Linked DNA regions of Homo sapiens: region 1 is linked to region 2. Evidence: fine-mapped expression QTL. A gene starts in region 2. The other region holds a variant in brackets. All regions are shown on one strand. Distances are from middle to middle.

The links. PIP is the estimated chance that this variant, and not a neighbour inherited with it, causes the effect.
Region 1: its variant is the best candidate, but not a certain one, in a credible set for the expression of LINC00997 in whole blood (INTERVAL, PIP 0.58).

What each region holds. Positions count from the first base shown.
Region 1 is chr7:32,642,180-32,650,528 of GRCh38, reverse strand. It overlaps the pseudogene DPY19L1P1. Among named protein-coding and RNA genes, the nearest start is that of MIR550A2, 87 kb to the left of the region's middle. The variant A/G (reference allele first, on the strand shown) is at 3,768.
Region 2 is chr7:32,755,020-32,763,368 of GRCh38, reverse strand. LINC00997 (long intergenic non-protein coding RNA 997) reads right to left here and starts at 5,083. Exons shown (of 1, transcript NR_036501.1): 1 at 445-5,083.

The DNA of each region.
Region 1 (8,349 bases), 110 kb after region 2:
TGTTTCCTATGCTTTGTATATGCCTCTGTGCCCCTCATCTTGACCTCTGCCTAATTAACTCCCGGTTATCCTTCACAACTGAGCATTTCAGTTTGCATCTCAATGGTGTTCTTAATTTCTTCCTGCAGATCTGGATTTCCATCTGACATAATTTCTCTTTAGTTTTAAGAATTTTATTTAGCATTGTGATAAAGATATCCCAATAAGTCCCTTAGTTTTTGTCTGTCTAAAAATGTTATCTTGCCTTCATTTTTGAAGTATATGTTTGCTGCATAAGAATTATAGGTTGATAGCTTTACCTTTCAGCACTTTAAAGATGCCATTCCATTATCTTCTGGTTTCTACCGTTTTATAAGAAGTCAGCTATAATTTTTGTTGTTGTTCCTCTGAATGTAATGTGTCTTTTCTCTGTTGTTTGAGAATTTTCATTATATATTTGTTTTTTATTGGTTGATGGTGGTGAACCTAGATGTGCTTTGTTCATTGAACGCTTTTGTTTTGTGGGTTAGTTTTTATTTTTAATCAGTTTTGGAAAATTTCTAGCCAAGATCTTCTTTTTAAATACTTTATTTTCCCCATTCTTTCTCTCTTCTTCTTTGGGGATCCTAATTACATGTATGTTCAACTTTTTAAAAATACTATCACAGATTTTTGACACTGTTTTTTTTTTTTTCCCCATTTTTTTTCTCTCTATTCCTCGCTTTGAGTATTTTCTCTTGCCATGTCTAGGAGTTGATGGATGCTTTATTCTGATGCATGCAGTCTGCTATTATCACTCTCTGGTAAATTCCCTCCCTCCCTCTCTGCCTTCCTCCCTTCTTGCCTTTCTTTCTTCCCTCCTTCCCTCCCTCCCTCTCTCCCTCTCTCTTTCCCTTTCTTCCTTCGTTACTTCTTAGAATTTCCATTTTTTTCCTAGAGCCTCCATTTTTCTGTTGAAATTTCCTATCTCTTCATTCATCTCACTAATATTTTTCTATACATTTTAAAATCTAATTATCATAGTTATTTTAAAGTCTGTCTTCTAATGCCAACACCTACATTATCTGGGAATTTAACTCCATTGACTGTTTTTTTCTCTCGATTGTGGATCATGTTTTCCTGCTACTTTGCATGTCTCATAGCTTTTTATTTTATGCAAGACAACTTCTGTAAAAGAATAATAAAGATTGAACTAGATAATCATTTTTGCCTCAATTTCCCTAGAAAGGGAACATCTTCTTTTATGTCAAGCACCTAGGAAGAGAGACTGAGAATTTGGATCCCACATGAAGCCCTGCCAAGCAGGGCAGTAGTATAGTTTTAATTTGTTTTAGTTTACTTCCAGTTTCAAATGAACTACAGTGATCTCTTTTTTCTTTGTCTCAGTCCCCAACTTTCCAGATGCTCAACTTGGGATTCCTTTGATCTTACCACTCTTTAAACTGGGAAGGGGTTAGTTTTCAGCTTTTTAGTTAATTTTAATCCATCTCCAGATTCAGCCGTGGCAAGACCCTGGAACCTAAGCGCTGTGTGAGATTGTGATCTCACAGAGTTCTGACTTTCCCCTACTCCTCTTTATCTGCCAGATTCATGTGTGTGTATGTTTATGTGTGTCCCAGGTTGGGGGAGGGGTGGCTGTCACAAAAAATATTCATTTTTGTGTTTGTAGCTTTTTCAGATTCTTGTTTATATTGTTAGAAGCTGTTTGGTTCCAGCAAAGACTCTCTGCCTGTGGCAGATCCTTACATAAATTACGCAGTTGTTCTCAGGTGTGAAGGTAGAGCCAACAACTGTTTTATTATCTTCACCTGGGCTATGTCTAGTTCCCCTGTAAATCTTGTACTAAAAAGGCAGTACAAGAAAAGTACATTTTTCTCTACTGTTTTTTCTCCGGCTTTTTATTTTGAGCAAATTGAAACTTACAGAAATGCTCTAGATTCAGTTTCATTTACTAGTTTTAATATTTTGACACATTTGCTGTCTCTCTTATACAAACACCGACACAGACATTTTTCTAATCCGTTTGAAAATGAGCTACAGATATGATGAGATCTCACCCCTAAATACTTCAGTATATATTGCCTAAAAGCAAGACATTCTCCTACATAATCACAATACTGTTATCATACTTGAGAAATTTCACACTAATAATTATATAATAATATCTTAATACAGCCCATATTCTTATTTACATAGTTTAGTCCTATAAATTCTTTGATGCTTTTATTTTGGATCCAGAATCTGATTAAGGATTGTACATTGCATTTAGTTGTCATTTTATTTAGAAAAGTTTATCTCAGTCTCTTTTTTTTTCATGGCATTAACATTTTTGAGGAGTCTGAACTAATTATTTTGTAGAGGTCTGACATTTTGGACTTGCCTGATCGTTTCTTCATTAATAGATTCGGATTAGACCATTTTATTTTATTTTATTTTGAGGTAGGGTCTCACTCTGTTGCTCAGGCTGGAGTGCAGTGGCACAGTTTTGGCTCACTGTAGCCTCTCCCTCCCTGGTTCAAGCGATTCTTGTGCCTCAGCCTCCCGAGTAGCTGGGATTACAGGCATGTGCCACCACACCCAGCTAATTTTTATACTTTCATTAGAGACAGGGTTTCACCATGTTGGCCAGGCTGGTCTTGAACTCCTGGCCTCAAATAATCTGCCTGCCTCGGCCTCCCAAAGTGTTGGGATTATAGGCTTAAGCCATTATGTCCAGCCAGATTGGACATTTTAATGAAGAATATGGCACATATGATGTTGTGTCCTTTTCTTTGCATTACATCTGGAGGCACATAAAACCAATTTGTCCCATAATCGAATTTACTAAATTAAATCACACAGTTAAGTGGTGGTGTCATATTTCTCTATTATAAAAATGCCCTTTTTCCTTTTAATAAGTGAAATGTGGGATGATACTTTGAGACACCAATACCCTCTTCCTCTATAACATTTACCAACTGATTATGCATCCATTGATGATACTTGCCTGAATTAGTTATTACATTAGCCATTGCAAATGGTAATTTTCTAATTCTGCCATTTAATCTACATTTAATGGTGTTCTGTAAAGACAAATCCCCTGTCCCGCCATTTTCTTTTACTATATATGCATAGGTTTTTTTAAAATTTATTCAATGTTTTATAATCTGTTGCAAATCTTTTTGATGTTCTCATTGTCACACATTTAGCCGGTAGTAGTCTCCCCACATTTTAATTATATATAATTTTCATACATTAAGATTTGCATATTTTAACTGTTCAGTGGATCTTTACATATGTATACAGTCTTGTATCCAGGAACTAGATCAATGTATAGACTATTTCCAGCCCCCAAGCAGGCTCACCTCTGTTCCTGTCCAATCTGTATCCTTCTCCATCCTTCAAAAGAGGTAGCCACTCTTCTATCTCTATCACTATTGATTAGTTTTGCCTATTTGGTGGTTTCATATAGTGGAATCATATTTTCTTATGTCCGATGTCTTTCTCTCAACATATGTCTGTGATATATATCCACATTGTTTTCCAAAGTGCTTGTACCAGTTTTCACTCCCATTGGCAATGTATGAGAATTCCAGTTTCTTCTATCAGTATATCCTTGTCAGTGCTTGGCATTGGCAGTCCTCTTAATTATAGTCATTCTGATGAGTGAAATGGTACCTTATTATGGGTTTAGTTTGCATTTTCCTGATGAGTAATGATATTGAGTACCTCTTAATATGGCTTATCTGATTTAGATATTCTCTTTTCTTTAATACCTATCTGAGTCTTCACCCATTAACAAATATTTG[A/G]GTTATTTTATTCATATATGGGAACTCTTTGTCAATTCCATGGAGTTGTTTGTAGAATATATGTTCTACAAGTACCTTCTCACCACTTATGACCTGCCTTTTCATCTTTTTGGATTTTGTGATTGTATCTTTTTGTACACAGATCTTTTTGAGGTTTTTTGATGAAGTTCTTAATTTTCATGAAGTTCCATTTAGCAATCTCTTATGTGTAGTCTTTTTTGTGTCTGATTAAAAAGTCTTTGCCTACTGTAGGTCATAAAGATTTTCTCGTATTTTCTTTTAGAAGCTTGAAGAAAATATAAGGGAAAATCTTGGTGTAGCTTTCACATTTTGGTTTATAATCTGTCTAGAATCTTGTATACAGTATGAAATAAGTTCCAGATTTCTTCCTCCCCTACCCCACCCCAAATAGGATGTCCAGTTAACCCAGTACCATTTGTTAAAAAGAAAATTCTTTCCCCGCTGAATTGTAGTGGGCCTTGTGTCATAAATAAAGTGACTATATATTTTTGGATTTATTTCTACACTCTCCATTATGTTCTATTTGTCCGTTTATCTTCAAGCCAGTACCACACTGCCTTAAATATTGTAGTTTATAAGTTCGATATCTGATAATGAAGATCTCTAACCTTGTTTTTCGTCAGTATTGCCATAGCTGTTCCAGGTCCTTTGTGTTTCCATATAAATTTTAGAATCAGCTTGTCACTACTCCCATCTCTTTCAACACATACACAACCTGCTGGTTGTGTATTAGATCTCTAGGTTAATTTAGAATGGACATTCCTGAACATACTAAATCTTCCAATCCATAAACATAGATTTATATTCGTCTCCTTTAATTTCTCTTAGCAATGTTTTATGTTTTGCACATATTTTATTAATCTCTAGATATTTTATGATTTTGGCACTCTTTTCTGCCCTTTTGATATATCTCATTGTGTTCAGACAAACACTTCCTTTCAAACACAAAAAGGTTCCAGAAACAAATTATTCTGTAATACACACAAAATAGTTTCAGAGTTACTACACTAATGTCATTACCAATAACAATCCTACAAAGTATGGTTCAGTATTTCTCTACTTATTTTTCTCCTAAGAGTATATTCTACTAAGGAGGTATAGTCAGAATATAAAAGTTAAACAATTTAGAAGCAACCTGAATTGTTTTTATTTCTCCACATTGTATTATCATTTTGATAGTGCAATTTGAATCATTTGTTTCTGTTTCTATTTATATTGCCTTTATATCTTGGCTAATGCTTTCATTTTATAGTCAGAATTTTGGTTATGTTGATAACCTTGAGCAGTGTAGTTTATAACCACATGATAAAGGTGGTAGAGTTGATACTGATAACATCTTGCCAGATATATTTTCTATTTTAGATGAATAAGCAATGGTCAAGTTCGAGTCATTGCAACAATGGATGGAAACATGGAGGTGTACTCACCGCTTTTTCAACAAAGTTGACTGCTTTCACAGAGGTTTTTTGTAAATTTAGGATAGGATATACTGATATCTTAGATTTTCAGAGACAAAAAGATCAATGTTTTCTGTCATACAACCAGCTGAAATTCTTTATAAAGATAGTAAAGTTTAAAATAGCATTTACGTATCACTGACACATTAAACCCTGTGTGAGCCAAAATTGTATTATAAGTTCAGATTGAAATATGTAACTGGTTAATTGAGCAGCTTATCAGTACGGGCTGTGCATCTGTAATCTGAAAATCTGAAGTCTGAAATACTTGAAAAGTCCAAAACTTTTTGAACGCCAACGTGACTCTCAAAGGAAATTCTCACTGGAGCATTTCAGATTTTGGTTTTTTGGACTAGAGATGCTCAGTTAGTAAGTAAAATGCAAATATTCCAAAATTTGAAAAACTCTGAAATCTAAAACACTTCTAGTCCCAGCATTTTGGATGAGAAATACTCAACCTGTGTATGGTACAAAAATAGACCAAAACTCCAAGAAAGCAACCAGGCTTACCTGTTATCAAGATACAGTGCCCTGAGATGCACAAAGCCTACTCCAAACTAAGGGTCTTCCTAAATAATGGGACTGCCCTAAGTAGCATCAAACAGGAGATATTCAAGCCATGTCTCTTAAACCTAGCATTCTTATGGTTACTATGTGGATAGCAGGATTCTTAACACCTGTAACATTCTCTGAAGAGAGGTAGCATAACCTTCATGGTGCCAGCAGTCTTTTAAGGAAGCACTCATAAATATAGTGTTTAAAGCCTTATTATAGTTAATATTAAGCAATATGGAGCAATAGTGTAATCAATATAGAAAAGCAGCAGTCAGAGGTGGGTAATTTGTTTTAAACCTAAACATTATAGTAACAAGTTAGGATTGATCCAGCAAATAGCAACTCTAGTAAAAACTCTTGGAATAAATCTTAAACATGATCTGTTTGATACTAATATTAACCACAATTTATAACTCACTAGTCAGGTGTTCTATTTATTTTGAAGTTATGAAGATAAATCAATTAGATCATGCTGTATTTCCAATATTATAAGTTAATAGTTTGAAAATAGAGATTGGAAAATTAAGCTATTTTTGAGATTCCTTAGTTATTGATTCTTGAGTGATTGATTAAAAATTATTAAGCAGAAAAGAAAAGCCTCTTGTTAATATCTACACAGTATTATGTTGCAATATAATCAGTGTTATGAAATGTGTGATAAAAATTATATACTAGGTGTTAGCAGTTTGAAACATGAGATTTTTATTGAATTTATTTTCACAATAAATGGATTTCTTGTACTTAGAGACAACATACATTTGTATAAGCCTTTTTTGAAGCAGTTCACATGTATATTTCCTTTAATTCTCAAATTTCAAAATAATGCCTTTAAAAAGCATTGGCATTTTAAACTGTCACACTTTTTATTTTGCATTTAAAATTAGAGATAAAGAAAAAATATTTATTTGTTGAAACGTAAGGCATGACTAAACCAAATCTCTTCACTATTTTCAGATTATATGAGATTATCTGGAATGGCAATTATGTTTGTACCAGATCTAGTAAAACACATTGTGTTATTGGAGAAACAATAGAAAGCACTTTCATGGACATTTGAATTCATATACTCAGAACTTTGGAGGGAGAAGACCTTGCCCTTCATTACAGTCCTGTAATTGGGTTTTCTTGTCCCTACTTTCAGAGGATGTAATTCAGTTTTGTTGAACTGAGTGACTTCAGCTATTAAATGCAACGAATTTCGGAGGAATGATAACGTCATTGAATGTGGGTAACAAATGTGGGGGAACCGTCCATATGAAGAAAATTCTCAAATTGTACATTGCATAGTTTGAATACTTGCTTGTTTGAATACTTGTTTTTGTACAGACTGATGACTTTGCAAATTTTGATCATACAGGCATACTTCAGAGATATTGTAAAGTGAATATCGTAATAAATCAAGTCATAACAAATTTTTTGGTTTTCCAGTGCATATCAAAGTTATGTTTACACTGTACTATAGTCTATTAAGTGTGAAATAGCATTATGTCTAAAAAACAATGTACATACCTTAATTTAAAAATAAGTTGCTAATCCCAGCATTTTGGGAGGCTGAGGCAGGCGGATCGCCTGAGGTCAGGAGTTTGAGACCAGCCTGGTCAACATGGTGAAACGCTTTCTCTATTAAAAATACAAAAAAAATTAGCCAAGTGTGGTGGCGGGTGCCTATAGTCCTAGCTACTTGGGAGGTTGTGGCAGGAGAATCGCTTGAACCCAGGAGGCAGAGGCTGCAGTGAGCCGAAATTGCACAGCTGCACTCCAGCCTGGGTGGCAGAATGAAACTCCGTCTCAAAATAAACAAACAAACAAACTGCCAACGATCATCTGAACCTTCAGCAAGTTGTTCAGATGGAGGGTCTTGCCTTGATGTTGACAACTGCTGACAGAGGGGTTGCTGAAGATTGGGATAGCTGTGGCAATTTCTTAAGGTAACGATGAAATTTGCTGCATCGATTGATTTTTTCTTTCATGAAAGATTCCCCTGTAGCATGTGATGCTGTTTGATAGCATTTTACCCACAGTAGAGCTTTCAAAATTGGAGTCAGTCCTCTCAAACCCTGCCACTGCTTTAGCAACTAAGTTTATGTCATGTTCTAAATTCTTTGTTGTCATTTCAACAGTGTTTACAGTATCTTCACCAGTAGTAGATCCCGTTTCAAGAAACCATTCCCTTTGCTCATTTAAGAAGCAACTCCTTATCCTTTAAGTTTTATCATGAGATTACAGCAGTTCAGTCACATCTTCAGTCTCCATTTCTAGTTATCTTGCCATTTCCATCACATCTGCAGTTACTTCCTCCACGGAAGTCTTGAGCCCATCTAAGTCTCCCATGAGAGTTGAAATAAACTTCTTCCAAAGTCCTATTAATGATGACATTTTGACCTCCTCTCATGAATCAGAATGATTTTAATGGTATCTGAAATAGTTAATCCATTCCAGAAGATTTAAATTTCATTTGTCCAGACTCATCAGAGGAATCACTATGGCAGCTAGAGCCTTATGAAAGATATCTCTTAAATAATAAGACTTGAAAGTTGAAATGACTCCTT
Region 2 (8,349 bases):
AAGGGCTCCCCTCTTAGTTGGTCCTGGCTGGTGCTGAAAGCGCTTGAGCACACCGCTCCTAGGGCTGACGACTTCTGAGGAACCTTATTTTAAAAGCATTTTGCTTTAAGATTCAGTAAACGCTGTCCCATGCCAAGGAATTGGCGTCAACCTGAGGCTCTGGGATCAGACCCACCGGACTCAGGCCGGCTCTGCCACGTGTTGCCCGCAGTCTCGGCCCGTTCCCTCCGCATTGACAGCGGGCACTGACTGTCCGATACCCCAGCGATCGTAGGAGAGCAGAGACGTTCCTAATGCCGCGGGCACCACGGGCGGGCCTGCGGGTCCGTTGGCTTTCCTGACACACTTCCTACAGTCATTTCTTTCAGCTGAGATCTTCCCCTTTAATACTTCGTTAATTTGTGGCAGGACGAGTCGCAGACAAAACTCCTCAGACACCAGATTAAAGAAGGAAGAGGTTTTTTATTCGGCCGGGAGCGTCGGCAGACTCGTGTCTTAAGAGCGGAGCTCCCCGAAAAAGAAATTCCTAGGCCTTTTAAGGGCTTACAACTCTAAGGGGTCTACGTGAAAAAGTCATAATAGATCAAGTAAGCGTGAAAAACGTGACTGGGGGCTACATACATCAGCTAACAGAACAAAAAGTTTTACAGTACTTTCTCATACAGTGTCTGGAATTTACACATAACACCAATAGTTTTGGTCAGGGGTTAATAATATTATTATTATTTTAGCCACCAGGGCCAGGTGGTGGTGCCAAGGTCCTCCAGCTATTTATCTTACTTCTGTTTCTTTCTAACTTTTTGCTTTCTCCCTTTTCTCCTGTCTTATAAAATAGGGAATAGGAGAGGTTGGGGAGAAACTGAGAAGGACAATAGGAGAAGTGGTGACCTCATACCATAAATTAACGTGTAACCTTTTGGTTAAAATGTCAAAGCTAAGACTAAACTCGAAGAAAAGAATTAAATCACGGGAAGTTCTTCAGACTTAGTCGCCAGCAAGGTTATGGCCCGAAGTGGTGCAGGGGCGGCACGCGGGGAAGCGACTGGCAGAGCTGTGCGCACTGGGGGTGCTGCAGGCGCTGGGGAGAGTGTGGAGAGGCTGCGTGGAGCTGCGCGCTCGGGGTGGGGGCTGCACTCCCAGTGAAGCGCGTGAAGGGCGAGCGGTGATGGGTTCTGCGCCAGTGGGGCTGGGAGCGTGTGGGGGGCTGTACGTGCAGCTGCCGCAAGGTGGAGAGTGCACGTGTGGGCTTGGGGACTACGCGCACCGGGGGCTGAAGGCGTTGGGGAGGGTGTGGGGGGCTGTGCGTGGGGCTGCCCTCACTGGAAGCTGCACGCTCAGGGAAGCTCGGAGGCGGGGGTCCTGCGAGTGCTGGGGAGCACGTGGGGGGACACGCAGGGACTGCCCGCGCAAATGGCTTCGAACGCATGCTCCCCACCCCACATTTCACAGTCGCCATGACGACCAGGAGGTCCGCAAGGGCTGCGGGGACAAGTCCGTTGAGGCTGCCAGGCAAGTCAGGCCTTTCTGGACCTCGCCTGACTGAGCTGGGCTGTGCCTGAAATTGACCCAGCTCCGCCAGGGATTATAAGAAAACAAGTAGTAAGCTCAAAGCCGCTACAATCTTCCCGCCCTGGAGCCAGAGGTGGAAAAGTCGGCCCTATGCGGCGGGAACCTGCCAAGGGGCGCCCCAAGGTGCTCCACGCGGAGGATCCGAAATCTGAAAGCACAAAAAGGCTTGGAGCTACAGTTGGGGGCCAAGACCCTTCTTCTCGGCCCCTTCCAGTTCGTCCATAATTTCCTGGCGCAGCTTCGGGAAAAGGTGCACGAACTGCAGGCGCGGCAGTTCTCCAGCAGGACCACTCTTGGCATCGGTGAGGAGAGGGCAGGAGAGCCCTGGGAGGGAGCCGCATGGCGCTTTTCTTAAGTCTTGAAGGAGATCAGTTTAACAAGCAACGGTTTGTGGGTGCCTAGTAGCAAATAATAGCAAGGTCCGAGTAGAAAGCAGTTGGCCAAAGATCTTGCCATTGAACCAGGGGAGAGAGATGGGGAGTATATTGGTTTGAAGGGCTGTCAGATCACAGAGAGTGTTTTAAGGTCTAGGAGTTTTAAAGGCTGAGGGGAGGGATCAAGGGAAGAGGATGAGATTAAGATTCCAAGAGAGGAAATAATTAGTGGAGCAAGTCTTGGAATATTTGGGAGGGGTAGAATTAAAGGCACAAATTTGAGAAGCTAACTGTGGAAAAGAGGAGAGAGAATTCCTTTTCTGAGATGACAGGGAGTAGAAAAGTGAGGATTACTATATGGAGAAATGTTAAAGTGGAGATAAAAGAAGTCGGGAGTGCTGGCGTCTAATGGTCTTTGTTTCAGTGAAGTATGAGACTGGGTCACCTTCAGAGGTGAGATTGACAGGATGCCGGGGTCCAAGGGACATGCTTCTGTCACAGCTTGGAAAGGGCATGTGATAAGCCCTTCAAGCATTTAGAATACTGGCATCGTTACACCATATCATTTTTTTTCAGATGTGGTATGTGGGTTAAGGGAGGGAGTGAGAGACACAGAAAGATTTTGAGCATCTTTGGAAAGCTGGATGAATTCGGTAGTATATTTGACCTTTTCCTTATATATCATCTGAAGAGTTTTTGCCAGTGTATATAATTGTTAGGAGAATTAGAAATAGGATACAAATATAGTTGAATAGGATAGTCTCTGTATATTTTAAAATTAATGAAGCCTAATAAACAGTTAATGAGCATATTTACAAAAATTTAAAGTTTTCAGCCTTTTAAAAATTATAGCAACTGTGCTTGCAGACAGTCCAAAAATACACTGTGGGCCATACTTTGCCTATCCTGGTGTAAAACAAGTAAATCTTCTGAGAAGTATTTAAGATAAGCCCAGGGCAGTTAGTAGTATAGGAAAAGGTCTGGATAAGCATGGTTGAGAATTTCAACATTGCAATTTTTTAATTTTAAAAAATTTAATTTCTTCAACAATTATTAAATTAATTTGCATTTATTTTGTTAGCCAAGAGGAGTAATTTTTGAATTTTTAAGAGGCTATTATTGGTGGTTTATAAGACGACTTGCCAAGTATATTTGGGATAACCATAAGAAATACCATTATAAAATCTCAGAAGGGAGGTAGGACTTCTGGAATAGCCAAGGAAATGCACTCCTCCATGATGACAATGAAAATACTTGGAAAATTATCAAAATCATTTTCTTCAAAACTTTGGAAGTTAACCAAAGGTTTACAACAATCTAAAGGGCATTAATTCAAGAAAAGCTGCTGAACCTCTATAAGAACAGCAAAGTCTGTGGTGTTTTAACTTGTTCTATTCCCCACTTTTCTCTCTCCAGCTCCATGGTACCCTTGAAAACAAGCAATTCCCCAACGAAACAGGGGCACAGGCTGCGTTTGCAGCTCTGGTAAAAGCTCCATACCCAGAGCAGTGTCTCCCAGCTCCCTGGTGAAGTCTTACGTATACATGGGGTGCTGGCACAGGTGCCTCCAGATAAGTCTCCTAGGCCATCTAGTAGTTCCTAAGTCTGGGCGCTTGCAAAGAGCTTGCAATTCATCAAGGGTTGAGTTGCACAATGGGGCTTTTAGATGTGCTGCTGAGGAAGTGATTGCCTGCATTTAATCGTCTTCTGATGAATGCTAGAGAAACTGATCTAGAGTGGCACCTCTTGGTTAGAACGAGCTGAAGCATACTGTATATATTTACTTCTTTAAAAAATTTCATATAAAGGAATAGAATACTAAAAAGAAAAAAAAACAAAAAAGGTCACAATATTCCATAATTCCATCACTCCTACCAATTAACTGAAGTAAAAAAACCCTCTCAAGTCTCTCCCTTTGCTTGTCAAGCCCTGCTGCAGAGAGGTAAGCTCTGTTCAGAATTTACTTTGTGTCCTGGATTTTTTCCTATGCTCATAGAGACAGGATTAGCTGGCCATCTTGCTTTCTGTGCTATCTTTTCTAGACATGTAAAATAATACATTTGAAATACTTGTTTTAATGGTATTTTATAATAAAGCAGCTTTTAATAACTTTTCTCTTTTCCAGCCGTCTTTGTGGCAATTTTACATTGGTAAGATTTAGTTTCAGTTCGAAATATTTAAAAACATTTGAATTAAAAATTGCCATCACTCTTTGCATACAGTAAAACAATAACTTCTGGCTATATTTGTAGAACATCTTTATGTACGCCATTTTATACATATATTTTGCTTTTTTACAAACCTCATATGTGAAACAGCATTTACAAAATAGATGCATTGGGGGAATAGTAACTTATGAATTAAAATATTTTGGCTTTACCAAATAATTCACCACGTTTTTAAAAATATCTAGCTTTTCTAGTGTATTTTGCATGTGTAGTTCATTTAAAACCCTCCTTTGTTTTATGGTAATTATATGTTGCTAGTGAAATAACTTTTTTTTTTTTTTTTGAGACAGTCTTGCTCTGTCTCCCAGGCTGGAGTGCAGTGGCGCGATCTTGACTCATTGCAACCTATGCCTCCCAGGCTCAAGTGATTCTCGTGCCTCAGCCTTCTGAGTAGCTGGGATTACAGGTATGCGCCACCACACCCAGCCAATTTGTTGTATTTTTAGTGGAGATGAGGTTTCACCGTGTTGGCCAGGTTGGTGTCAAACTCCTGGCCTCAAATGATCCACCTGCCTTGGCCTCCCAAAGTGTTGGGATTACAGGCATGAGCCACCACGCTCAGCTAGTGAAATAACTTTGGTGATAAAGTTTTAGTAACACCCGCCAATTGGAAGTCAGGTAAAAAAGAAGATAAAGATTCTGCAGTGGTTATACAGAGTTAAATGGCTTTGACTCTTTCAGTGTGCAAGGCTGTGTACATTATTTTACAAAAGTGTTTATAAAAATTTGTAAAATAATATTTCCCTCTGGAATATTTTATTTTTACCTGTGCTCAGCGATTTCTACCCTTGGAAGGTATGAGATCTGCCCCTATGTTCTATTGATACAGTGCTGCTCTAGACATTTAGTCTGCAGGGAGATTTTGGTATTAGAACTGAGGCTGCAATGCTAGGGAATATTCCTGCAGTTTTTGGTACCCTGGCATATGTCCTACATGTAAAGAAGGGTTAGTGGAAAACAGGGTTAATACATGGAACTTTGCTTTATTTTCAACTTCACTGGAAAGTACTGACTACATAAGTTAGCTATAGCATAATTGTTGACCACAGCTAATTTTGTTTATCACATATGCTCCTTTCTTCACTGCCTACAGCTGCTGAGTTTCACTACTAAAAGGTCTTCAAGTACACACCTGTATTCTTTGGCGCTTGAAAGTTGATCCTTTATGTGATATTATACTTATTGTAAGTCTGTTTTGATCTAAAGTAATTTTATTTAAAATTATATTCTGAACCCTTTTCAACAGTTACGGAGGTATTTCCCAAGGCTGGTACATTAGAATCACTTGAAACTTAAAAAACAAACACTAACCTGCCTCTGTTCTGATTTAGAGGCCTGGGATGGAAGGAAGGGTGAAACAAGCCACAAGAATTTTAGATATACAATTAAGTTGGTTTTTTTTTTTTGAGACAGAGTCTTACTCTGTCGCCCAGGCTGGAGTGCAGTGGCATGATCTCTGCTCACTGCAACCTCCGCCTGCTGGGTTCAAGCAATTCTTCTGCCTCAGCCTCCCTAGCAGCCAGGATTACAGACATGCACTACCATGGCTGGCTAATTTTTGTATTTTTAGTAGAGACAGGGTTTCACCATGTTGGCCAGGCTGGTCTCAAACTCCTGACCTCAAGTGATCTGCCCGCCTCGGGCTCCCAAAGTGCTGGGATTACAGGCATGAGCCAACGCACCCGGCAACAATTAAGTTTAAAAACCACTGAGTTAAGGAATTTCAGGTGTGTGCCATACTGCATTATAAATGCCTAAAAACATACGAGTTAGTAAGCAAATTATAAAAACAATATTATAACAATTTATTGTTTCCTTTTTTATGGCTTTCTTACTTATCGCTTATTTTAATGTTGGTTTTGAAACTTGTTCTTATTGTAATATGATACTTCATTGCACTGTTTCATAAGCTATAACCCAGGTTTATTATTTAAATAGTAAAGTGTTTGAGATTATTTTTCTGTTACTTCATTATCTCTCACCCTTTCCTAATGCAGACTTCTTTTTAAGATAATGAAGATGAATTATAGTAGCTGAGGAAGGAGGACAAAGAAAGCACTGAAGAAGTGATAAAGGGGAATGAAATGAGATGTTATCAGAAATTGCTTTTTCTTTGGCTACAGTTGGGAGGTCCCATGTTTTACTGGGTCTTTTACTGATGATGATTATTATTTGGTTCTCTTTTGATTTCAAGATAATCTCTTTTAAGAGATGACTTTTGATATAATTTTTAAATATTTTTCTGTTTTTCGATACTTAATCTTTAAAATGGAGTTTTCTGCCATACACATCTCACATAATTATTGTGAGGAGTAAATGGGATAGCGAATACCAAAATTGTGCAATTTTACATTTAGAAGACACCACAACCGTCCATCTTCCAGATCTGCTCCCAGCTGGTCGGGGGCCTACTGAAGCATTGAAGCTGACTCTCCTCACTCTAGCCATTGCTTTTTGTTTAAATTATGGTGAAATTTAGATTTAAGTTTGTAATAGAAAAATGTCAATGGTTATCATTTAAGCGTACAATTCAGTGACATTAAGTACATTCGTGTTGTCTTGCAACTATTACCACTGTCCACATCCAGAACTTTTTGCTATCCCAAACAGAAACTCCACCCACTAAACACTAATCACACTCAGCTCTATTTTCTATCTCTATGATTTTGCCTATGCCAGGCCCCTCCGTCACTGCTTTTTAATTTTCATCCCTATATTGCCCCTATAAAGTTTCAAAGCATTGGATACATTAACATATGTATGACATTTGAACATTTTAAAGAGAATATTTAATATTTCCCTAAATATAGACTTTTGCATATTAGATATCCTTTAATTATTGTATTGCTTTATCCTCCTAAGCAGAAAGGAAAATTCTTTATGAACTCATATTTTGCCAATCAACTATGAGGTAATGGCCTTTCAGACATCAGCTAAAACAGACGTTTAATTTAGTAGTTACTCGTGTTGGATGAGGCAGATATGATTATAGCATATAGCATTTTTTAGGGAGAATGCATTTTAAACAATGTGGCCCTTTTTTGCTTTTAGATTTTAGGAGCGAAAGCAAGAAATTGATGGGGAAATAAGACATAACATGCTATTGTTAATCCATGAATTTTAACTCAACAGCACTTTTACTATCCTAATGAAGCCTTTATTTTATATGCTGAAGTGTAAGACACTAAAATAATCTGCTTTTTAGTACATAGTATTTGTGAGCAACAATAGTCAATCAACATTGAGCTTTCACTTAGCACAGAGGATTAGATGGAGCTATGAATTAAGCTAGAAGCACTGGATTCCTTGCTCATGATGCTTATGGTCATTATATTTTATTTCCTAAGAGCATGGGAAAAAAAGAAGTAATTTTCTATATGCAAAGTTGTACAGAGGCATGAAGGCATCCCTGTTTATGACAGAATTAATCAGATGTCAACCTTCAAGCATCTCAAATGTGGGGGATAAAACCAGATTTGGGAAAATTGAACATATACTGTCTACACATTTTAAGACATTATTAGAGAAACTCTTTAAATCATTCGACCATCCCTCCAACTCTTTAGTTTGAAAGCCTATAGAAAACTTGAAAGAATAGTACAGTGATCACCTGAAAATACGTGCTTTTTAAAGTCCAAGAATGCAAAATAGCGAGGCGTAATTAGGAAGTCTTATTATTGACCTTTTTTTTCAGAAAAAAATGTTCTAAAGAAGTGATAAAAATAAATATTTTAAAGTTTTAATTACATTGACAACATGTGCCTTCTTTTTTTTTTTTTTTTTTTAAAGGGACTTTTATTCCTACTTCGAGACCAATATTGAAGCACCTTCATTTTTGGAAGGACTGGGGACGATAATGAATGACAGGCTTACTGAAATCCTCTTGGAATTAATGCAGTAAAATGCTTCCATCTTTATCCAGAGGTGAGTCATAATTTGAGACAAATAATATATTTATAGAGTGATCCTCTTTATCAGATAAAAATAGTAAGCACAATCTTTTTAAGAAAGGGAGGGGACCTTTCACGTTTATTAGTTGTGTGTATCCTTATAGTTGAGCAGAATATCATAAGTTCCTCTCTTAAAATTTAAAGACCCCAGAAACTGTTCTCTCATGAACTCAAAGAATGAACTTTAGTGTGTAAATAATAGCCAGGGTAATAGACAAGCCAAATGGA